7 linked regions of the Homo sapiens genome follow. The protein of the gene in region 5 interacts with the protein of the main gene of each other region in a biochemical or structural test. Each region holds a gene or a part of one and is shown on either strand. Other genes may lie near its edges. The genes, in order: AKIRIN2, PAIP1, ERG, ATF3, UBR5, NRL and TOPBP1.

Evidence for each region.
Region 1: of the proteins of UBR5 (region 5) and AKIRIN2, one has a biochemical effect on the other in vitro, tested with the Homo sapiens proteins (one study listed by BioGRID).
Region 2: the proteins of UBR5 (region 5) and PAIP1 form a complex in vitro, tested with the Homo sapiens proteins (one study listed by BioGRID).
Region 3: the proteins of UBR5 (region 5) and ERG form a complex in vitro, tested with the Homo sapiens proteins (one large-scale study listed by BioGRID).
Region 4: of the proteins of UBR5 (region 5) and ATF3, one has a biochemical effect on the other in vitro, tested with the Homo sapiens proteins (one study listed by BioGRID).
Region 6: of the proteins of UBR5 (region 5) and NRL, one has a biochemical effect on the other in vitro, tested with the Homo sapiens proteins (one study listed by BioGRID).
Region 7: of the proteins of UBR5 (region 5) and TOPBP1, one has a biochemical effect on the other in vitro, tested with the Homo sapiens proteins (one study listed by BioGRID).

The regions. Positions count from the first base shown.
Region 1 is NC_000006.12:87,678,234-87,681,733, reverse strand, and holds part of AKIRIN2 (akirin-2), read left to right. Parts: coding exon 1-114; intron 115-3,500. UniProt on the Homo sapiens protein: Molecular adapter that acts as a bridge between a variety of multiprotein complexes, and which is involved in embryonic development, immunity, myogenesis and brain development.
Region 2 is NC_000005.10:43,547,078-43,550,577, reverse strand, and holds part of PAIP1 (polyadenylate-binding protein-interacting protein 1), read left to right. Parts: intron 1-2,664; coding exon 2,665-2,850; intron 2,851-3,500. UniProt on the Homo sapiens protein: Acts as a coactivator in the regulation of translation initiation of poly(A)-containing mRNAs. Its stimulatory activity on translation is mediated via its action on PABPC1. Competes with PAIP2 for binding to PABPC1.
Region 3 is NC_000021.9:38,400,978-38,404,477, reverse strand, and holds part of ERG (transcriptional regulator ERG), read left to right. Parts: intron 1-768; coding exon 769-972; intron 973-1,840; coding exon 1,841-1,921; intron 1,922-3,500. UniProt on the Homo sapiens protein: Transcriptional regulator. May participate in transcriptional regulation through the recruitment of SETDB1 histone methyltransferase and subsequent modification of local chromatin structure.
Region 4 is NC_000001.11:212,618,761-212,621,275, forward strand, and holds the end of ATF3 (cyclic AMP-dependent transcription factor ATF-3), read left to right. Parts: intron 1-211; exon of another isoform or gene 212-285; coding exon of another isoform or gene 286-506; exon of another isoform or gene 507-597; coding exon 598-795; 3' UTR 796-2,015; downstream 2,016-2,515.
Region 5 is NC_000008.11:102,406,201-102,409,700, forward strand, and holds part of UBR5 (E3 ubiquitin-protein ligase UBR5), read right to left. Parts: intron 1-3,500. UniProt on the Homo sapiens protein: E3 ubiquitin-protein ligase involved in different protein quality control pathways in the cytoplasm and nucleus. Mainly acts as a ubiquitin chain elongator that extends pre-ubiquitinated substrates.
Region 6 is NC_000014.9:24,104,950-24,108,449, reverse strand, and holds part of NRL (neural retina-specific leucine zipper protein), read left to right. Parts: intron 1-3,500. UniProt on the Homo sapiens protein: Acts as a transcriptional activator which regulates the expression of several rod-specific genes, including RHO and PDE6B. Also functions as a transcriptional coactivator, stimulating transcription mediated by the transcription factor CRX and NR2E3.
Region 7 is NC_000003.12:133,651,942-133,655,441, reverse strand, and holds part of TOPBP1 (DNA topoisomerase 2-binding protein 1), read left to right. Parts: coding exon 1-152; intron 153-1,917; coding exon 1,918-2,097; intron 2,098-2,812; coding exon 2,813-2,979; intron 2,980-3,500. UniProt on the Homo sapiens protein: Scaffold protein that acts as a key protein-protein adapter in DNA replication and DNA repair. Composed of multiple BRCT domains, which specifically recognize and bind phosphorylated proteins, bringing proteins together into functional combinations.

The sequences.
Region 1 (3,500 bases), on a different chromosome or scaffold from region 5:
ATAAACGAATGCAGAAGAGAAGACATTTAGAAACGAGTTTCCAACAGACAGATCCGTGTTGTACTTCTGATGCACAGCCACATGCATTTCTCCTCAGTGGACCAGCTTCACCAGGTAATAACATTTCTTGTCATTTACAAAGTTTATTATTTAGAGTGGGAAAAGTCTAATCCAAGTTGTCTTTAGTCATTTAAGCTACTGTATCTCCTCTGAGTTTTAAAAAAACATTTATACAAGTAATGCATGACATCTTAAAAAATAATATGGTACAAAATAAGGAGTTACCACTGGATTCCCACTAACCAGAGACAACCACCTGCATATAATATCCCCAAAGTGGACATCCTGTAAGTACTATGATTTGTAGCCTTTATTAAAAAAAATTAACAATAGGCCAGGCACGGTGGCTCATGCCTGTAATCCCAGCACTTGGGGAGGCCGAGCGAGGTAGACAGGTCACTTGAGGTCAGGAGTTTGAGACCAGCCTGGCCAACATGGCAAAACTCTGTCTCTACTGAAAATAGAAAAATTAGCTGGGCGTGGTGGCACGCGCCTGTAGTCCCAGCCCCTCGGGAGCCTGAGGCATGAGAATCACTTGAACCCAGGAGGCGGAGGTTGCAGTGAGCTGAGATCATGCCACTGCACTCCAGCTTGGGCGACAGAGTGAGACTTTGTCTCAAAAAAAAAAATAATAACAATACTGTATGCTCCTTTGTTAGGTATAGATGTACCTTGTCATGACTGAACACTTAATGATAGATAATTCAACTTAGAAGTTTTGCTGGTATAGTATTTTAAGAACTATCCCTGTATACATACCCTGCCTCACACACTTGTCTTATTGGGCTAGATTTCTAAAGGTGGATTATTATTATTTTTTGATCCTGTATCTGTTTTTACCTACTTTTTGTTGGGGGGAATGTTTGCAAATAACCTTCCTTTTTTTTAAAAAAAAAAAAAAGGGGGGGGGCGGGGAATAAGGGCTACTTGAAGCAAAGAGAAAGTTGAAGGTTTTGCTGAGAGAGAGCCATCAATAGTGGCTCTTATCTTTAGTAAAGTTCTCAGGAAAATAGCTTTTCTTGTGACAACAGTTGCCTTTGTTCAACGCTTTCTCTCCTCCCCCTAGCAAGGGAAGGAAAACCTGGCAGAATAAAAAAATTTGCGGCTGGGCGCGGTGGCTCATGCCTGTAATCCCAGCACTTTGGGAGGCCAAGGCAGGTTTATCACGAGGTCAGGATATCGAGAACATCCTGGCTAACACAGTGAAACCCCGTCTCTACTAAAATCCAAAAAATTAGCTAGGCATGGTGGCAGGCGCCTGTAGTCTCAGCTACTGAGGTAGGAGAATGGCATGAACCCGGGAGGCAGAGCTTGCAGTGAGCAGAGATCGCGCCATTGCACTCCAACCTGGGTGACAGAATGAGACTCAAAAAAAAAAAAAAAAAAAAAATCAAAGACCATAACATAGTCAAATAAAATTAGATTAGGAAACATGAACTTGTTCAAAACTAAATACTGCCATGCCCATTGTGGGGGCCAGGTATTAGTGGTTGAAACATAGAGGTGAGGGTTGGGCACTAGACTGTATTAGCAGGAAACCAAGATCATTATTTCCTTACTCACTTTACTTAGAAGATCAGTTAACTGGCAGTCTTAAGTAACAAAGCTGGGAATGTGAAAGTAAATTAAGATGGCTTTGGATAATTATGGAATAAAGCTGGTGGGCTTTGTTATTGTGGTATGCACAGTTCTAATAAGCATAGTTAACTAGCTCCTGCCATGCAGGTTATAAGGAGCAAGTTAAGAGAGTAAGTAATATTGGTGGTACCAGGGCAAATTCACAGAGCGAGATGAAGAAACAATTGGTAACGAATGGTGCACTTGAATATGTATAAAATACTTTTAGCAGTATTACAGTAGATGTTATTACTACAAAATATTTTCTCTTTTATTAAAAATATCCTAATAGGTATAAAAATGCTGAAGGAATATTTGAAATTGACAGATGCTGATGTTGCAGCTGCTTTGGGATTCTTAGTGTGATGACAGTGTAGTTCTATGGTATAGAGTTTTGAGCATAGCATTATCAGCTCAATGCTTGAGCTTATTTTTCCATGCGAATTGTTGTTAACTTAATGGGAATTAGTGGTCAATGAGTTCAAAAACCTTTAGAATCATTTATGCTTCTCCAGCAAAGTAGATTTCAGAATGTCTTGTTTTGTTTTGTTTTGTTTTTGAGACAGGGTCTCACTCCGTTGCCCAGGCTGGAGTACAGTGGTGAGATCTTGGCTCACTGCAACCTCCACCTCAGCCTAGCCTGTAGCTAGAACTACAGGCACGTGCCACCACTCCCAGCCAATCTTTGTATTTTTATTAGAGACATGGTTTGCCATGTTGCGCAGGCTGGCCTTTAGCTCAAGGGTTCCACCTGCTTCGGCCTCCCAGAAAGTACTGGGATTACAGGTATGAGCCACCACACAAGCTAGGTTCCAGAATGTTTTTTAATCTTTTCTAAAAAGGATTCATGCTGTACCTTCTTTTTTTAAACATAAAAATTTATTGTGCCAACATGAAATTTCTTTTTTTTTTTTTTTTTCTGAGATGAAGTTTCACTCTTGTTGCCTAGGCTGGAGTGCAACGGCATGATCTCGGCTCACTGCAACCTCCGCCTCCTGTGTTCAAGCGATTCTCCTGCCTCAGCCTCCTAAGTAGCTGGGATTACAGGCATGTGCCACCACGCCTGGCTAATTTTGTATTTTTAGTAGAGACTAAGTTTCTCCATGTTGGTCAGGCTGGTCTTGAACTTCTGACCTCAGGTGATCCGCCTGCCTCGGCCTCCCAAAGTGCTGGTAATACAGGCGTGAGCCACCATGCCCGGCGTATTTTCTTTTTCAATAAAGGAAAACCCCTTTCTAAAGGTGTGAAATGATGGTAGAATAATTACCAGTTCATTGTGTGTAGGCTCTTAAGATATTAATGGTATGGCTTTGAAGACTAAGTGTCTTTTTACAGGCATAATGATTTGTTATTCTGGGACTAAATAAAATTAAATTTAGACCTGAGGTGTTCTTCATTCCTAGTGTAGGAAAGTAATTTAGTCACTAAAATACTTCATGGTATGGTATTTTCCAGAAAGGAGATAAGATGTTTTGTAATGGGACCCATCATTGTAATGTTTAAGTTTTATGTCTTTTTTAAATTTAATTTTTAATTTTTTGTTTTTATTTTTTTGAGATGGAGTTTCACTCTCTTTGCCCAGGCTGGAGTGCAATGGCGTGATCTCGGCTCACTGAAACCTCCGCCTCCCGGGTTCAAGTGATTCTCCTGCCTCAGCCTCCCGAGTAGCTGGGATTACAGGTGCCCGCCACCATGCCTGGCTAATTTTTTTATGTATTTTTAGTAGAGGCAGGGTTTCACCATGTTGGCCAGGCTGGTTTCAAACTCCTGACCTCAGGTGATCCGCCCACCTCGGCCTGATTACAGGCGGTGAGCACCACGCC
Region 2 (3,500 bases), on a different chromosome or scaffold from region 5:
GATGCAGGCAAAGCCCTTATGGTGTCTATCACATATCATATATGCAGCTGGTGGCTATTAGCTTATTAACTGGAGTACCATCCTAGGTGCCAAGAAATACAGCTTTTTATCATTCATTTTGGATGCTTTTTATACTTTAGTCCCTTTATGTATGAATACATGGCTGTTGCATTTGGAATATGACTCAGTATTCTCCTAGAAATTTAAAATGTAATTCATTTGTTGAACATTCTGTGCTTTACTATGTGCTCTTCACCAATCTAGGTGAATTTGATTAATTCACTTAATCCTCAGAGTCACAGTGATAATATTTATGATTAGTAAATAAATGCATCAACATTAATACCTCCTATTATAGTAGAATGTTTAACTTGAATTCAAATGCGTGACAAAAATCTAATGTATTAGAGTTTATCCTTCTATTCAATGAACACTATATGTGAATGAAAAAGGCACATGAATCTGCTATTTCTGCAGCTGGTTTTACTTCCTGACTGCCTCTCATAGTACATGCAACTTTTGCTAAGTATCACTTCAGTCTCTGAAGATACATAGGCCGGGCATGGTGGCTCTCGCCTGTAATCCCAGCGCTTTGGGAGGCCGAGTTGGGTGGATCATTTGAGGTCAGGAGTTTGAGACCATCCTGATCAACATGGTGAAACCCCATCTCCTCTAAAAATACAAAAAAAATTAGCTGGGCCTGGTGGTACATGCCTGTAGTCCCAGCTACTCTGGGAGGCTGAGGCAGGAGAATTGCTTGAACCTGGGAGGCAGAGGTTGCAGTGAGCCAAGATCTTGCCACTGTACTCCAGCCTGGGTGACAGAGCGAGACTCCATCTCAAAAATAAAAATAAAAAATAAAGATAAAATAAAAAGTGTAAAACATGACCTCCAAATGATGGTTATTTGAAGTGGTAGCACTATAGTGGTCCATTTTCATGCTGCTGACAAAGACATACCCGAGACTGGGAAGAAAAAGAGATTTAATTGGACTTACAGTTCCACAAGGCTGGGAAAGCCTCAGAATCATGGCGGGAGGTGAAAGGCACATCTTACGTGGCCGCAGCAAGAGAAAAATGAGGAAGAAGCAAAAGCGGAAACCCCTGATAAACCCATCAGATCTCGTGAGACGTATTCACTATGACAAGAATAGCACCGGAAAGACTGGCCCCATTGATTCAGTTACCTCCCTCCTGGGTCCCTCCCACAACACATGGGAATTCTGGGAGATACAATTCAAGTTGAGATTTAGGTGGGGACACAGCCAAACCATATCAAGCACCAACAGTAAAGGGACAAGTGGACAATTGGCAATGTTGGTCTTTCTCCTAAGACTGTGTCCTGGGCCAGGCGCAGTGGCCTGTAATCCCAGCACTTTGGGAGGCCAAGGTGGGGGAATCACCTGAAGTCAGAGTTTGAGACCAGCCTGGCCAACATGGTGAAACCCTGTCTCTACTAAAAATACAAAAATTAGCCAGGCATGGTGGTGCATGCCTGTAATCCCAGCTACTTGAGAGGCTGAGGTACAGGAATAGCTTGAACCCGGGAGGCGGAGGTTGCAGTGAGCCAAGATTGCACCACTGCACTCCAGCCTGGGCGACAGAACAAGACTGTCTCAAAGAAAAAAAAAGACTGTCTTTCTCCAACATGGAGCATTTCTAAGGGTGTTTTGACCATGTATGACTTTTTTTTTCTTCTATGCACTCACTGACTTTAGAACTTAACCCCTTCACAAAATGCTTCTGTTTTGTAGTCATAACTTTTTTATGTGGCTTTTCATTTACTCTGTTTGGAGAAGGTTAAATTTCATACAAGCAGTGTAGTTATTATTAGATTTTAACTGTTTGGTAAACTTTAAAGCGCTTCGGGTGGTATTCCAGGCATTGAGATGTGAAAGTTGTTGCTCAAGTCTATTATCTTTTGTAAAACTCGCCCACTCAGCCTTCTGCCATTAATGAAAAGGTTGGAAACTGCCAAAGGTGACAGTGGTGGAAACAACATTAGCTGGAAACTACTGCTGCTATCAAGGTTGTGTTAGCAACCTGGATGTAGCAGCCAAAAGGTCTCCTTCCATTTATACCGTGATGAAATTTTAGTTACTCGAGCAGCTTTATGCATTTCTTTGCCCTTGGGGATTAACAGATGATAAACCTTATTAGGTTTTTGTTTTTGTTTTTTTTTTCCCCAATAAAAAAGTTGTCAACATTTGCAGAAATACAGAGAATGGTATAATGAATCCTCATGGCCTCAACAGTAAGCTACATGTGGCCGTTCTTGTTTTTATATCCCTAGTCCATACTTCCCCTCCCACTTTGAAGCAAATCCTAGATCTTATTTCATTCGTAAGTGGATCAGATTCTTAATTTTTATATTGGCATTGTAGTGAAATATTGGTTTAAACTTTATTCCTCAGCCATCTTAGAAGTTGACCCAGAATGAGAAGACAATTCCCTGTTTAGCTGAACAGAACCTTTCTGCTGTTAATTATAACACTTCAGCTTTTAGGCAAGGAAGAAAAATAGCTCAATTGACAATTTTATTGATGAACATAAATTTTTATCATGTGAGGGATCTTTAAAAAAGCATTTGTGCTAGAGACATACCACCTTGTGTGTTTTAGCCAGTTGCATAGATTAAAATTGTTTTTTCATTTTTGATCCGTAGGAATCCTATGAGGATGGTTGTGAGGATTATCCTACTCTATCAGAATATGTTCAGGATTTTTTGAATCATCTTACAGAGCAGCCTGGCAGTTTTGAAACTGAAATTGAACAGTTTGCAGAGACCCTGAATGGTTGTGTTACAACAGATGATGCTTTGCAAGAACTTGTGGAACTCATCTATCAACAGGTATGTTGGCTTATAGCATGCAGTGACCTTCAGATAGCTTCCTTGAAGCCCAAGGATAGTGGCTACTCCTTGAGGGAGACCAGATTCATGATCACCTGCCTCCACACTTACTCTTTATAGTTTCCGGGAGTTCTAAGTCTGTCTTGTATAAAACTCCTATAGTTAGGGATCCAAGGGTAGAGCCAGACAGGATTGCAAGTTCACATGTGTAGTCAAGATTCAATATAGGTAATATTCACCTGTTTAGCCAAAGCTCTATACAAGCAGTATAGTATAGAAGGTGATATGGGCACTGAAAACGAAGGCTACATAAGTGTCACCCCCACCAAAACCCTGCCCCTTGTTTTGCAGGCTCTGAAATTAGCAGTACCAGAAAAGACTGCAATTCTTTTCCCCTATGTGTTGAATTGAATAGTAGTATTAGAGTAGGGGAGGAAAAAAATTGAGAGAATTTGCTTGCCTCATAAGTAGGTCTTTAAAAAAAAGAAAGCCAAACCATAAAATGTCTTGTCTTAGCATTTCTACTTGCCTTTGCTTTCTTTTAAAATTTAAGGATTTCATCTTAATTCCTTGAAAGTCTAATTTAGTCAGTTGAAATTGTTTCATTATACAACATTTAGTTTTTATCCCAGCATATTGGTCATTAACAT
Region 3 (3,500 bases), on a different chromosome or scaffold from region 5:
TCCCCCGGGCCCTGCTCTCCCTGTCCCATAGGTAGCACTGGAGTGTGACGACGTGGCCTGCATCCTGTGGGGTGTTTGTGCTCGCCATGGCCAGCTGTGGAATGCAAAAACCACTCACCAACCCCACTCCTGCAGGTGCTGGTTAATTGCAAAACCAAACACCCTGCAGGAAAAGTCTGGAACTGACAGCTCTCTATGAGGAACGCTGGCTCATAGGAGGGGCTAGAGTCTTGGTGTATCTATATTTCATTTCCGATTCTGTGGTCAGTATTTTTCAGTATTTTGCATAAATACTGTTATTATTATTTTTGTTGTTGTTGTGATCTGTAATTAGCACCTTCCTGATATGTGTGGCTTACTCTTATTTCCATATAAATATATATAAATATACCAGTAGTTTTCTAAGGAAAAGAAGTTTCCTCTTATTCTTACTCATTTTAAAATAAATAAATAAAATTGAACATAAATGAGAAAAAAGAATTTTTAAAATCTTATGCCTACAGGAAACTTTAGATTGAGCAAAAACAAGGGCATGTGATGTGAATAATCCCAAGATTCCAGAACTATTCACTTTAAAGACAATGATCTATGGATGTGAGGCAGCTTTTGTCTTTCCCCCAAAATGTTCTCCTGGGTAGCCAGGGAGGCTGGCTGGAGGCTGTGCTTGTGGAAGGCAGCTGGTCAGAAATCCCACGTGGATGGGGATCTACCCCAAGATGAAGATCCCTGGCTTCAGGAATTGACTGAATGTGTTCCCACCCCTTTCAGATCCTACGCTATGGAGTACAGACCATGTGCGGCAGTGGCTGGAGTGGGCGGTGAAAGAATATGGCCTTCCAGACGTCAACATCTTGTTATTCCAGAACATCGATGGGAAGGAACTGTGCAAGATGACCAAGGACGACTTCCAGAGGCTCACCCCCAGCTACAACGCCGACATCCTTCTCTCACATCTCCACTACCTCAGAGAGAGTAAGCTCCCCCTTCCTCCAAGGATAGATGGCTGTGGCTATGGTTCTTATGACCTGAGCTTCAGAGGGTTCAACCAGGTGTGTCGACAGCATCCTCCTGCCCTCGCCCAGTTCCCACTGGGGATCCGAGGGAGCCACATGCTTGGTATGTGATGACTTAGGGGAGCAACACCCTGGCCACATCACCTGATGAGAAGTAGTCAGCGCTCTCAGGAGAAGCCAAAATTCACTTCAACACTCAGCTGCCTCCTCCAGGGTCCTGCGACCAAGAAGATGGAATGTCAAAGGGGAAAGGAAGCGTTAACTGGTCACACATTAGTTAAGTCTCCATGATACCCCGAATCGAAATAGAATCATTAAGGCTTCTCTTTCGTAGGAATTAGGGGGATTATTCTCCCTAAAGCTACATGAAGCCCCACTTTATATTCTAACCTGAGCACAGAACAAGGGAAGTTTTCACTTTGTATCATGTGATTCGGCTTAACCTGACAGAAAGGGATGGCATGTTGGCATGAATCCAGAATGTTTGCTGCATGCTTTAATTTCTACAACGTCCAGCATGGTGAGAAGGAAGTAGTGTGACAGACAGTGAGGTGGATAAATTCTCCTCCATTGCTTTGCCTGGCATCCCAACCACTTCTTCCCTGAATTAAAGACGGGCCCCCATGTAGGTTTTAACATGCTAACAAGTAGCAGGTTGCTGGAAATAGTTATAAGCTTCCCATGATGTTAGTGTGGGAGTGGGGGAACGGTTTTCTTTCTTTCTTTTTCTTTCTTTTTTTTTTTTTTTTTTTGTAAGAAAGGTAATTCTCTTTCTCTCTCTCTCTTTTTTTTTTCATTTTGATGTCGCTTTTTGTTTTGTTTTGTAGCTCCTCTTCCACATTTGACTTCAGATGATGTTGATAAAGCCTTACAAAACTCTCCACGGTTAATGCATGCTAGAAACACAGGTAATGCTGGCCCCGCCCCTGCCTCCCAGCAAGAGCGTAGGGTCTTACGTACAGGTTGCATGCTTTCATGGGAAACCAGTCAGCGCGTGCCAGGAAGACAGAACGCAGGTAGATGATTCAGAATACTTTCGGATACTTAGGAATGTACCACAGCCTAAAGGAAGGTGAAGCCCTTTGGTTTTCTGAGCGCTTCCCAAGCACCCCACTTTGATTATCAAAGGGTTCCTTTTTAACCAGGAGACGTGCAGAATTTGCCTTTAGCCATAACTTAGCTCACATTTGCCGGATTACAGTCTTCTTCTGTTGGTCCCAATATATTCGCTGTGCTGACTCTGTAGACACTAAAAGCATGTTCGATATAAAAGGGCCCTTAGCAACCTCCTTTAATTTTTTCCATTTTTATTCTTAAAGAAATATTTGCTAGGATAAGTTGGAATTTTCTTTTTCCTTTCCAATAAACTTTTAGGCTATTTGATTTGTTTTCCTACAGACTTTGTATGTTTGCAAAAGGCAGGAGGGAATTTCTGTAACATTTTGAGAGCTTTTGTTCAGAGGGAACCTCTGCTATAATTTTGGAGAATATGAAATTAGTCACTAACCAAATGCCTGTTTTCTATCTCTAACCGTTGCCTCTACATTTGACTTAGTTATGTATTTATTTTGCCTGAGCCTAAGTAGGGTTTAACACCGTGCCTCATCCTGGCTAACCTTCCTCCCTCGCCCCCCGCTCACAGCAGAGGCTGGGTTTTCTGTGGATGAATGTGTTCCTGGTTCACATCCATCTGCTCCTTCCTGATGGAGAGAGTTCCGGAAGCATGGCCACCGGCTGCTCACCCCACTCTGTTAGCTGCAGGGACCCTCCACAATCACTCGGGCTAGGGAGGGAGACGGGAAGTGCCAGAAAGCCTTGCAAGTCAGCCAGTTAACTCACGATCAGCCCTCACATAGAAATACGCAATTTTCCCAATATTTACCATTTTATTTTAAAATATAAAATGTGAGTGAGTCCCGGTTTGAGTATTACAATGAAATTGCTCATTTATCATGGTCTTCTATATTCAACACATTGTCTTTTTAATCTGAAGTTTTAAAAAACCTGCTTCGAGTTGGTAGTACACTTTTTCAATAATTTTGGTTGCACACATCAGCCTATTAGTGACCTTGTGGCCAGAAATAACAGATAACTTAGAGGAAGTTACTTCCCCTTCTTAGGAAACACCTTTGAGCTATGCACATTTTCTGATAATTTCACATTTATTTATGAGTTCTTTAACCATTGAGTGAAAGTTTCAAAAAAGCTCCAAATATATTAAATTTTGCTATTGTTAAACACGGAAGAAACCAATGAACAAGACAACAAATTCCAAATGGACTGAACTATGAAAAGGGAATTTTCTCAGCTAACAGCATGAGTTTTGGTCAAAAGAGAGAGAGGGAAAATGCATTTGAATAGAGATGTGGATTAATTATTAATAAAATCCATATACTCTTAGGCTAAATACTTATAATTGCTTGATACTACTTTCCAAAAGCTCTGTAAAATATATTATGGGTTTTTATACAAGTTGAAAAATAAAAC
Region 4 (2,515 bases), on a different chromosome or scaffold from region 5:
GAGAGACACTAGGGGAAATAGCTTTTGTGGGCAAGCAGGGTGGCCGGTGGTGCTCAGCAGTCTTTCCAGTGGCTGTGTCCCTCCTCCAAATGTGGACAGGCCATGACAGAGTCTTAGCCCAAGTCCCACAGATCCCCAAAAGTTCTGTTGATTGCTTCAGGGGATCAGTGAAAATTAGGGAATTTTGTGTGTTGCTATATACATTTTTTCTGGGGAGATGAGCTTCTCATTGAGATCTGTGACTCAGAATCGACTAAGCCACCATAAGTCTGGATTTCTCCCCAGCTCCCAAGGCCCTTTTGGGTCCAGAAGACCTGCATATGGGCTGTTGACTCATGCAAATGAGGTATCTGAACTGCAGCTTCAGTATTAGCAGAGCCACAGGCCGCCTCTGTGGCATCACCAGGGTTTCTCTGAAGAAGAGGGTCTGCATTTTCCTAAACCCAGTGCTGCTCTCCCATCTCCCATCTTCCTCTCGCAGCTTGATGAGCCCCGGTGTGTCCCAGGTACACCCCTGCATCCAGGCAGCAGCCCAGGCCACCCCCTCCTCACTGGCCCTTGGCTCCTTTCTTGATGCCTCTGTTGCTTGTCCCCCAGGAGTCGGAGAAGCTGGAAAGTGTGAATGCTGAACTGAAGGCTCAGATTGAGGAGCTCAAGAACGAGAAGCAGCATTTGATATACATGCTCAACCTTCATCGGCCCACGTGTATTGTCCGGGCTCAGAATGGGAGGACTCCAGAAGATGAGAGAAACCTCTTTATCCAACAGATAAAAGAAGGAACATTGCAGAGCTAAGCAGTCGTGGTATGGGGGCGACTGGGGAGTCCTCATTGAATCCTCATTTTATACCCAAAACCCTGAAGCCATTGGAGAGCTGTCTTCCTGTGTACCTCTAGAATCCCAGCAGCAGAGAACCATCAAGGCGGGAGGGCCTGCAGTGATTCAGCAGGCCCTTCCCATTCTGCCCCAGAGTGGGTCTTGGACCAGGGCAAGTGCATCTTTGCCTCAACTCCAGGATTTAGGCCTTAACACACTGGCCATTCTTATGTTCCAGATGGCCCCCAGCTGGTGTCCTGCCCGCCTTTCATCTGGATTCTACAAAAAACCAGGATGCCCACCGTTAGGATTCAGGCAGCAGTGTCTGTACCTCGGGTGGGAGGGATGGGGCCATCTCCTTCACCGTGGCTACCATTGTCACTCGTAGGGGATGTGGAGTGAGAACAGCATTTAGTGAAGTTGTGCAACGGCCAGGGTTGTGCTTTCTAGCAAATATGCTGTTATGTCCAGAAATTGTGTGTGCAAGAAAACTAGGCAATGTACTCTTCCGATGTTTGTGTCACACAACACTGATGTGACTTTTATATGCTTTTTCTCAGATCTGGTTTCTAAGAGTTTTGGGGGGCGGGGCTGTCACCACGTGCAGTATCTCAAGATATTCAGGTGGCCAGAAGAGCTTGTCAGCAAGAGGAGGACAGAATTCTCCCAGCGTTAACACAAAATCCATGGGCAGTATGATGGCAGGTCCTCTGTTGCAAACTCAGTTCCAAAGTCACAGGAAGAAAGCAGAAAGTTCAACTTCCAAAGGGTTAGGACTCTCCACTCAATGTCTTAGGTCAGGAGTTGTGTCTAGGCTGGAAGAGCCAAAGAATATTCCATTTTCCTTTCCTTGTGGTTGAAAACCACAGTCAGTGGAGAGATGTTTGGAAACCACAGTCAGTGGAGCCTGGGTGGTACCCAGGCTTTAGCATTATTGGATGTCAATAGCATTGTTTTTGTCATGTAGCTGTTTTAAGAAATCTGGCCCAGGGTGTTTGCAGCTGTGAGAAGTCACTCACACTGGCCACAAGGACGCTGGCTACTGTCTATTAAAATTCTGATGTTTCTGTGAAATTCTCAGAGTGTTTAATTGTACTCAATGGTATCATTACAATTTTCTGTAAGAGAAAATATTACTTATTTATCCTAGTATTCCTAACCTGTCAGAATAATAAATATTGGAACCAAGACATGGTAAACATGTGTTGTGCTGGTTTCTGTTCATTTAAATCTGTCGGTTGCTGAGACCTAGCGATTCCCTGCCTTTCCCTCCCCATTATGGGGGGTGCCTAGCTTTAAACTTCTCCAGATGTCATCCTTTGCTCTTTGGGGCATCACTAGATGGGATAGTTGGCTTTCAGTCCTGTTCCTCAGTCTTGGGCACCTGATGCTCAATTTTTCATTGACAAACCCTGAAACATGGCACCAAATATATCCTTTAGATCAACAGTTTGGTGTTTAGAATTTTGATGTACAACTGAATTGCTAGATACCTTAATTATTTTCTCTGAATGTACAAACACCTAAAACATACACCTGTTGTTCAGCTTGAACCTTTGACCCCTAACATTCTGCCACAGAACTCGTCTCAGAGAGTTACTCACTTGAGTTACATCTGTTTCATGTCTAAACGTGTGTCTCATTGTTGCAAATACATATCAGAAAAGAATGGGAAGGGGTACCGGAGGAAGAAAGAACC
Region 5 (3,500 bases):
TACTTAAGCAAATTCATTTAAACATTTTAGTTAGGCCAGACTGTACTTTTCCAATACAATAAATCTAGTATTGGTTTTTTATTGTTTGTTTTTGGTTTTGTTTTTGTTTTTGAGATGGAGTCTCGCTCTGTCACCCAAGCTGGAGTGCAGTGGCGCAATCTTGGCTCACTGCAACCTCCACCTCCCAGGTTCAAGCAATTCTCCTGCCTCAGCCTCTTGAGTAGCTGCAACTACAGGCATGCACCACCATGCCCAGCTAATTTTTGTATTTTTAGTAGAGATGGGGTTTCACCATGTTGGCCAGGCTGGTCTCAAACTTCTGACCTCAGATGATCCGCCCACCTCAGCCTCCCAAAGTGCTGGGATTACAGGCATGAGCCACCGCACCTGGCATAATGCATTTAGTATTGCTTTTAGGTAACAATCTCAATAATCAAATGGTGAGATTTTTCACTGATTTGGTAATATGATGCTCCATCCCACACAACCTAATGTCTGGGGGGTTTTTTTATTGATTTTTTTGTTTTTTTGTTTTTTGGTGCACCACAATAAAATTTCAAGCAGCTTTCAACTATTATAACCTCTACTCACCACAACCTTTGTTATGCTTCATATAATCCCTGGCATATTTTCTGGCTCCTACTGAGTGAAGATATGCCTGAGTCTTTAAAACCTCAAAGTTCTTAATAAACATAATGAGCACTCACTGAATGCCAAGACTTGTGCAAAAACACACTTTCTATGCCAACACTATCCAAGAGAACTTTCAGTGATGATGGCACTGCTCTGTATTTGCACTGTCCAATGTGGTAGTGAGTAGCTACGTGGCACTACAGTGCACTTAAAATGTGACTAGCTACAGATGAAGTGACTTAAATTTTTATTTAATTTTAATCAATCTTAATTAATTTTTTTTTCCTTTTTTTTGAGACAGAGTCTTGCTCTGTCGCCCAGGCTGGAGTGCAGTGGCGCGATCTTGGCTCACTGCAACCTCTGCCTCACGGGCTCAAGCTCTGTCTCACAGGCACAAGCAATTCTCCTGCCTCAACCTCTTGAGTAGCTGGGATTACAGGCGTCCACCACCACACCCAGCTAATTTTTGTATTTTTAGTAGAGATGGGGTTTCACCATGTTGGCCAGGCTAAGGGGTCTCGAACTCCTGACCTCAAGTGATTCGCCCGCCTCAGCCACCCAAAGTGCTGGGATTACAGGCATGAGCCACTGGCCGGGCCTTAATCTTAATTTAAACAGTCATGTTTTAAAAATTAAGAATATATATTGCGGCCAGGTACATTGGCTCATGCCTGTAATCCCAGCATTTTGGTAGGCTGAGGCAGATGGATCACCTGAGGTTAGGTTCAAGAGCAGCCTAGCCAACATGACGAAACCCCATCTCTACTAAAAATACAAAAATTAGCCAGACATAGTGGTATGCGTCTGTAACTTGGGAGGCTGAGGAAGGAGAATCGCTTGAACCCAGGAGGTGGACGTTGCATTGAGCCGAGATCCGGCCACTGCCTCCAGCCTAGGAGACAAAGCAAAACTGTGTCTCAAAAAAGAAAAAAAAAAAGAACGTATATTGCTTGAAATATTCTTCATAAAAGTCATTTTCACTTATTTTTACAACCAAATGCATTGAAGATCATCTAGGATGGGCTTCCTTAACCTTAGCACAACTGACATTTTGGACCCCGTAATTCTTTGTTGTGGGGGCTATCCTATGCATTATAGGATGTTTAGCAGCATCTCTGGCCTCCATCCACTAGAGGCCAGTAGCAATGCCCCAGCTGTGACAATAAAAAATGTCTCCAGACACTGCCCAATAAGGGGAGGGGGTTGTGTGTGGAGGGTGCAAAATCACACCAAGCTGAGAAGTACTAATCTAGAACTAAGAGTCGATTCTGCTCTGAATGCTAAGGATATTCTAGGGCAACTCTTTTGAGTTCCTGCTTTGCTATCTGGAAACCAGGCAACACGTAAAAAGTTAAAAGTAACCATCTCTTCGTAATGTTTTCCGTAGAATCCACATTATAATATTGATCTTTTCCCATCTACTGTCTCAACTGTTCCTCCCTGACCTTGAGGAGAGTGCTACACCTAATTCAGAGATTGATGTGGGGGGTTCTAAGAGGTTAAATGACTAGGCTACCAGCGCAGAGTTTGAAACTCCTGTCTATAGTATCTTACCTTGTGTTATGACACCTGAAAGGGAAACTCTAAGCTTAGAGAAAAATCCTTTTGATATGACAATCTCAATAAAGACTGTTTATGACTGCACAATACGTTGTAATGCCAAAAGGCAAATCTCACAGGAAAATTCCACATACAGACAAGCAATAAGAACTGGTTTGTTTCGTAACTAACCTGCATCTTGAGGAATAATTCAGGACAAGGACAATAAATGCCATAACCACATCACCTTAAGAAGACCTATCCTAACCTAGTACCAAGAAAAGGTTAAGAGCGTCAGCCTCTGAAAAAAAGGCATAAACCCATTAGGAGCCCTGGAAAGAGCAGTTGAGGGGAAAACGGAATCAAAACACTAAGACAGGTGGCCACACTGCCTGAAGGCTGGGATGTCTGAGACAGCAGAACCATTCTGGAATACAAGCCACGTGAAGTGGAATGGAGCCCTGGACTTTAAAGAAAAGTCAGAAGACCCATCAGGTGGACCTCAGCTGTCTCTCAGTAGTTGTATCCCTGCATAAACACTGTAAATCTCTGTGCCTATTTTTTCAGCTCATTAGTGAGGCACTTTCCAGGCTATTAGTGAGGCAGGCCTTTCAGCTCTCCCCTCAAGCTCGACGAACCACATTCTTTATATTGTTTTACTGTTTCTCTGAGACAATGTTTTAAGCAGGAACGTAGTACTAACTCAAGAAATCCATTGGAAAGGAGATCAAAATGTCCAAAGTATCTGAGCACTGAATGGTTTCAATTCAGCTCAATGAATATTTGCTTGAGGGCCCAGCATTCTGTGCCAGGCACCTTGTAATCATTCTGGGAAGTCACAGCCAACATCCTCTTCTTTCCACCCCAGCCATCCCCACCTGTATTTGTCAATTTCATCCTGGCATCATTATTATTCATTATTGGCAAGTCTGAAAACACAAATTATGAAAAAAAGATACTTTTTTATGCTTTGTACATTTTAGACACTTGAGACATCAGACTATGATGCTGAACAAAATATTTGACTTTTTAAGAGGATGTGGGTAAAGAAAGAAAACGTATTTGAAGAAAACACTACTGTTTTGAGGACCAAGTTTTCTTCAGCTGAGCAATTTATTTGCAGTACCATTCTGCCTGTCTAATCTTACTACTTTTATTCCAAAGTATAAAGTCTATTTACACCCTTTTCATACATAACTATGATTATCATTTTATTTGTGACTCTCATACATTTCTCATAATAAAAAAAGTCAAGCTACAGTAGCAGTAGCTTTTTTATTGCCCCAACTTACTAAAACTTGGTAAAGTTTTTATCTTTAGATGAAAAT
Region 6 (3,500 bases), on a different chromosome or scaffold from region 5:
AAGAGGATCATTTGAGCCCAGGAATTCAAGGCTGCAGTGAGCTGTGATCACGCTACTGCATTACAGCCTGGGCAACAAAGCAAGACCATGTTTCCAGAAAACCCTTTAGCCCTGATTTTGAATAGAACATGTCAGTATGAGTTCATGAGGTTTTATCTTCTGTCGCTATCCACCAAAAAGATCTAGAAACAATGACCAATCCAGTATCAATGAACACTCCTAGCATCCAGATTGTGGTCTTAAAACGCCATTTCCCCCTGAAAGAAGCCAGAGCTTCTTAGAGAAAAAGCTGATTCCAGGTTTGGGGAAGGAAATGAACACAATGAGCATGGAGCAACTTATACCAGATAGCCGGGAAGCAAGGAGTATGTATCATGTCAAAAGGACTCAGCTCTTTTTGGCCTAGCTTCCATAGCCAAATGTGGGACAATTTGAACATTTAATAAGGTCAATTTAATAAACACTAAGTATGTTTAAATCCATGAGTTCATAATGTTTGTGTGTAACTAACTGGTTACCTTTTCAAAGGATAATAGGAAATCAAATCATTTTTTTGAAGATGATAAATAAAGATAAAGAATTAAGCAGTTATCCTGCTGTTTCTATATAAACAATACCATAGGGTAATGAAATAGAAGTGTCCATTTTATAAAATTATTGCAATGTTATGACAACTCAAATATGGCTGTTTTGCAATCCCTAGTGAGTTAATGCATTTAGACACTGAACATCTGAGTCTGGATTCGTCAATGGGTAAATTGAAGGAAAAGAAAGGAATGGAGGGGGAATCTGTAGACTGATAGAGACTTGAAAGACATATGAAAAAAATTTTAAATGGGAGCAAAGCTAAACTATAGTGTCTAAGGATCTACATTTAGGTGATCAAACTATAAAAAAATGCAAAGAAGTAATTATTACTCACCATAGTATCCACTATGGCAGGAAGGGGTGGCTATGATAGAGATGGGCAACAGGGTCGGGGCGGGGCGGGGCTGGGTTGGTGTCTGCAAAGTTCTGTTTCTTTCCCTGGGTAGTGTTCCAAAGGTGTTCACTTTATGATAGTTTATTCAGCCATAACTTTGTTTTAGATGGTCTTCTGTATCTGTGTTTTATTTTAAAATAAAAAGATTATAATGTGTTAACTATATTTTATCAGTTATCTGGAGCTGAAGGGCATGCAGCCCCATTTTATTCTAATTAATAAAAATAATTTTTAAGGCTAACACTTTCTTGTCCCTGTGCATTTAGAAGATACCAGAAAGGTGCCTGGAACCCCAGTTCCCTGCCTCTTAGCTGGAGGGATTTATTTTTAAATCTATTTTCTTTCTCTCCTAGATTTTATTTACATTGCTCATGTTCCTTTTAAACTGTAGAGTCAGCAATATGTAATATACGCTTACAGGGCCTACTCTAATCATTATAAAGTGGAAAGGTGATGATAGCTAACATGTATTAAATGGTTATTCGGTGCCAGGCATAGTTCTGAGTGCTTTATTCCACTGACTCTTTTAATCTTCCCAACAAGACTGTAAAGTGTAGGCATTTCCATTTTACAGATGAAGCAACTGAGAGGCACCTCTGGCTCAAGTCTACTATGTGTTTAATACCTGTGCTATGTTGCTTTTGACGGTATTCAGTTATCATATGCTATTTATGAAGCTAAGGATTTGGCTGTGTTTTATTATTATTTTTAAATTTTTAAATTTATTTATTTATTTATTTTTTTTTTGAGACAGAGTCTCACTCTGTCGCCTAGGCTGGAGTGCAGTGGTGTGATCTCAGCTCACTGCAACCTCAGCCTCCCAGTTTCAAGTGATTCTCCCGCCTCAGCTTCCTGAGTAGCTGGAATTACAGGCATGGGCCACCATGCCTGGCTAATTTTTGTATTTTTAGTAGAGATGGGGTTTCACCATGTTGGTCTAGCTGGTCTCAAACTGCTGACCTCAGGTGATCTGCCCACCTCGGCCTCCCAAAGTGTGAGCCACCGCGCCTGGCTGGCTGTGTTTTAAAGTACAATATACTCCACTGCTAACTTTGTTCTAACCTCTGTTCCACTCTGACCTTTAGATTTTTACACATTCTGGCTGGTCACTGGCATTTCCTATGAGAACACTTGGTGTTTCCTCTTCTAGTTTTTTCCTTTGAGGGAGTTCCCAATAATTCCATTTTATTTGTTGAAGTTTGTTCCCTTTTTCTGGGTAAAGACTACCACACTACCCACCTTAGGTTATACATTCTCTCAGCCTGATCCAGATTGCACAGAAGTTATCCTAAGCTGATGCCCCTGACTCATGTGAGATCATTGCACTGTTTTCCTGATTACTCTCCAAAGTTTATTTCAGATGAATTTAGGCTACTCTAAACTGTAGTTCGCAGACCGGCAGCATCAGCATTACCCAGGAGCTTGTAAGGAAAACAAAATCTTGAGGCTACTACAGACTTGCTGAGTGACAATCTGCATTTTAACAAGATCTCCAGGTGATTCAAAGGCACTTTTAAGTTTGAGAAACACGGAATAGGTGACTTTTTATTTTTTTATTTTTTTGAGACAGAGTCTTGCTCTGTCCCCCAGGCTGGAGTGCAATGGCATGATCTAGGCTTACTGCAACCTCTGCCTCCTGAGTTCAAGTGATTGTCCTAAATAGCTGGGATTACAGGCACCTGCCATCATGCCCAGCTAATTTTTGTATTTTTGTAGAGAAGGGGTTTCACCGTGTTGGCCACGCTGGTCTTGAACTCCCAACCTCAGGTGATCCGCCCTCCTTGGCCTCCCAAAGTGCTGGGATTATAGGCATGAGCCACTGCGCCCGGTGGAATAGGTGACTTCTAAGGTCCTTGCAGTTGTAGATGTCTATACTACTATGAAAGACATGTCTTTGCAGTTTTATCACTTTAACCCTTAGCTCTATTGTTTACTAACTGTGAAGCTTTGGACAAATTACTTGACCTCTCTGTGCCTTTGTTACTTCATCTGTAAAATGGTAATTCCCCCAAAGGGTTGTTAGGTATGTGCTTAGAACACTGCCTTGTTGGGAATAGGCCCCCAAAATCTGGCCATAAACTGGCCCCAAAACTGGCCATAAGCAAAATCTCTGCAGCACTGTGACATGTTTGTGATGGCCATGACACCCACACTGGAAGGTTGTGGGTTCACCGGAATGAGGGCAAGGAACACATGGCCCACCCTGGGCAGAAAACCGCTTAAAGGTATTCTTAAACCATAAACAATAGCATGAGCGATCTGTGCCTTAAGGACATGCTCCTGCTGCAGATAACCAGCCAGAGCCCATCTCTTCATTTTGGCCCATCCCTTTGTTTCCCGTAAGGAATACTTTTAGTTAATCTATAAAAACAATGCTTATCACTGACTTGCTGTCAATAAACACGTGGGTAAATCTCTGTTCGAGGCTGTCAGCTCTGAAGGCTGTGAGACCCCTGATTTCCCACTCCACACCTCTATATTTCTGTGTGCGTGTTTTTAATTCCTCTAGCACTGCTGG
Region 7 (3,500 bases), on a different chromosome or scaffold from region 5:
TCCTATTTTTCTTGGTTGCATAATCTGTGTGACTGGCTTATGTGGCTTAGACAGGAAAGAAGTTCAGCAACTCACAGTTAAGCATGGAGGTCAATACATGGGACAATTGAAAATGAATGAATGTACACACCTCATTGTGCAAGAACCAAAAGGTAAAACTGTGTTTCACAAAGGGACAAATGAAACATTTTCTCTAGTATTTAATATTTTATTTTTATTTATTTATTTATTTATTTTGAGACAGAGTCTTGCTCTATTGCCCAGGCTGGAGGGCAGTGGCACAATCTCAGCTCACTGCAACCTCTGCCTCCCTTGATCAAGCGATTCTCCCAACTCAGCTTCCCGAGTAGCGGGATTACAGGCACCTGCCACCACGCCTGAATAACTTTTTATTTTTAGTAGAGACGGGCTTTCACCATGTTGGCCAGACTGGTCTCTAACTGACCTCAATTGATCTTCCCACCTCAACCTCCCAAAGTCCTGGGATTACAGGCATGAGCCACCGTGCCCAGCCACTAATATTTAATATTTTAAAATCTTTACAGAACAGCTTTTACTTCTGACATGTCATTAATCTAGTTTGATACTGTTTTCTCTAACATCTTGCAAAGATGTTTTCTCTAACATCTTGCAAAGTTTTAACTGGAAGACACACCTTGCGGCACATGAGGCAGTAAAAAATGAAAAAGACATTACGAACAAGAAAAATTCTTTAAAATTGCTATTAAGTTTGGTGTTACATAACATTATTCTGGATAATTTTTTATCAGCACTCTTAAAATATACACAAATTGATAAAAGATGAGTTTTGTTAATGTTTTTATTATTGCCCTTTATATGTATACTGTGTTTTACTAAGCTATCTAGATTGAGAAGAAATTACGATTAAATGGTAATTGTCCTTAAGTCAGAACTTTGAGTATGGCTGATTGTGATAGGATCACTGTGAGTAGAGTTGATACTGCTGTTCTTTTTCTGAATCTGAAGACAGTTCATTGTTGATTCTCTCAAGAATGCCAAAAAACCTTTCATGTGACATATTGACCTCAATTCCTCTGTGATACTGCTTCAAAATACATTGTGTTGAAGATTTTTAAGGTAATAAAAGATACATATTTTCAATATAATTTATCTTTTGGCTTATCTATCCTGGACTTTAAGTAGAAGCCTGTTGACATTGGAATAGTCTGTTCAAAGTTGGGATTTATTATATAGCACAAATTTACAATTTTCACATTGTACAAGCTGGTTTAAAGAAATTAAGTGATGGAGCCTATATGCAAACCCAAGTCCAATATTAATTAAGTTACCCCACAGTTGCTTCTGTCTTCCTGCAGTTTGTATAAAAGATAAAACCTCTCACATGGCATATGTATTTATACTACACATAGAAAATATAATTAGGCAATAAGCTAAAATACTACTTTGTAATAAACTGTGTAGCATACTGTTTAAGAGTAAGTACTGGTAACTTTAATTTTGTTGATAGGTTTTTGAAATAACCTGTTATAGCCGGGCGCGGTTGCTCACGCTTGTAATCCCAGCATTTTGGGAGGCCAAGGCAGGCGAATCACCTGAGGTCAGGAGTTTGAGACCAGCCTAGCCAACATGGTGAAACCCCGTGTCTACTAAAAATACAAAAAAATTAGCCAGACATGGTGGCACACGTCTGTAATCCTAGCTATTCAGGAGGCTGAGGCAGGAGAATCGCTTGATCAGGAGGGAGGTGGAGGTTGCAGTGAGCCAAGATCTCACCACTGTACTCCAGCCTGGGCAACAGAGTGAGACTCCATCTCAAAAAAAAAAAAAAAATATTAACCTGTTATAATTTGAATATTTCTGCAAAGATAGATTGTAATGGTTTTCATTTCTTGGTTTCTCCTATTTTCTCTATTTCTTTCTTAATGAACGCCACAGGTCAGAAGTATGAGTGTGCCAAGAGATGGAATGTACACTGTGTGACCACACAGTGGTTTTTTGACAGTATTGAGAAAGGTTTTTGTCAGGATGAATCCATATACAAGACAGAACCTAGACCAGAAGCAAAGACTATGCCCAATTCTTCAACTCCTACCAGCCAGATCAACACAATTGATAGTGAGTCTCATTGAGATTAAAATAATTATTCTGAAGACAGTCATATTTCTATGTAATAATCAGTATGTTAATAGGATCACTGAGATAGGGAATTTCTTTTTCTTGTTTGCTGTGCTTCTAGGCATAATTGTATAATAGTCAAATTGTATAAAAAGTTAGCACTGAACTGTTCGTAATTTTCTTTTAGAATGAATGAATGCTGTCTTTTATACTCTGTTGTAATGCAAAAGATGATCAAAGAAATTAAGAACAATGGTAGCTGGGGGCTTAAGATAAAAGTATTAATCTTTTAAACATTACATGCATATATTAATCTTTCCTTAATTTACAGTTTTGCTGCAGTTATAGATCATCTGTATTTGTATAAAAATTAAAACCATTTCTATTTTGTAGGTGTCGTGTTGGCAAAATGTTTAAAATATTTTTTCAAATGTAAGCTTCTTGGACCTTAAAGTCAGCAACTTCAGATTTTTATGGGAAACAAGACACTATTAAGAAAATGTGTTAAATCTATTTTCATTTAAATAAGATAGGAGGCTTAATTAATTTCATTTTCCCTTTTTATACTTTGCCACTAAGATTTCAGTAAACACCCCTGAATCTTACTTTGGAAGTTGTTTATTGCCCTATATTTGTAAGAAAAGTTAATCCATAGACAATATGTAATCATGATTATTTTATCTCCCATAAATTTATACGTTTTCAAAATATGTAGGTCGTACTCTTTCAGATGTCAGCAATATTTCCAACATAAATGCAAGTTGCGTAAGTGAATCAATATGTAATTCACTTAACAGCAAACTGGAGCCTACACTTGAAAATCTAGAAAATCTGGATGTCAGTGCATTTCAAGCACCTGAAGATTTATTAGATGGTTGTCGGGTACGTCTTTATTATATAATACATGCAGTAGATGATATACATTAGCATTTCCTAGCCTGACTTTGAAGACCCTTCAGAGTTGGGCTTGCTCCTTACTATCTATGTAAACCCTCCACTCTAGCTAAGTAGATGCACTTACTAGACCATGTCCATCCTTTGGCTGCGAGAGTCCCTCTGCCTGCAAGGTATCTTCCTCTGTTATCTTTTAAAAGTTCATTTCAGGTTTTAACTCTTCTCTGAACCCTCCTAACTACATTAATCTTTTCATCTGCTATATTTCGAGAGCACTTAGTTTCTGAACAACTTATTGGATTTTTTTTTTTTAATTTTTTTGAGTTAGGGTCTCACTCTGTTGCCCAGGCTGGGATGCAGTGGCACAATCATAACTTCCTGTAACCTTGAACTCCTGGGCATCAGCCACCCCTCAGTCTCCCGAGCAGTTAGAACTACAGGCATGTGCCACTACACCTGGCTAATTTTTAAAATTTTTTTGTAGAGACAAGGTCTCACTATGTTGCCCA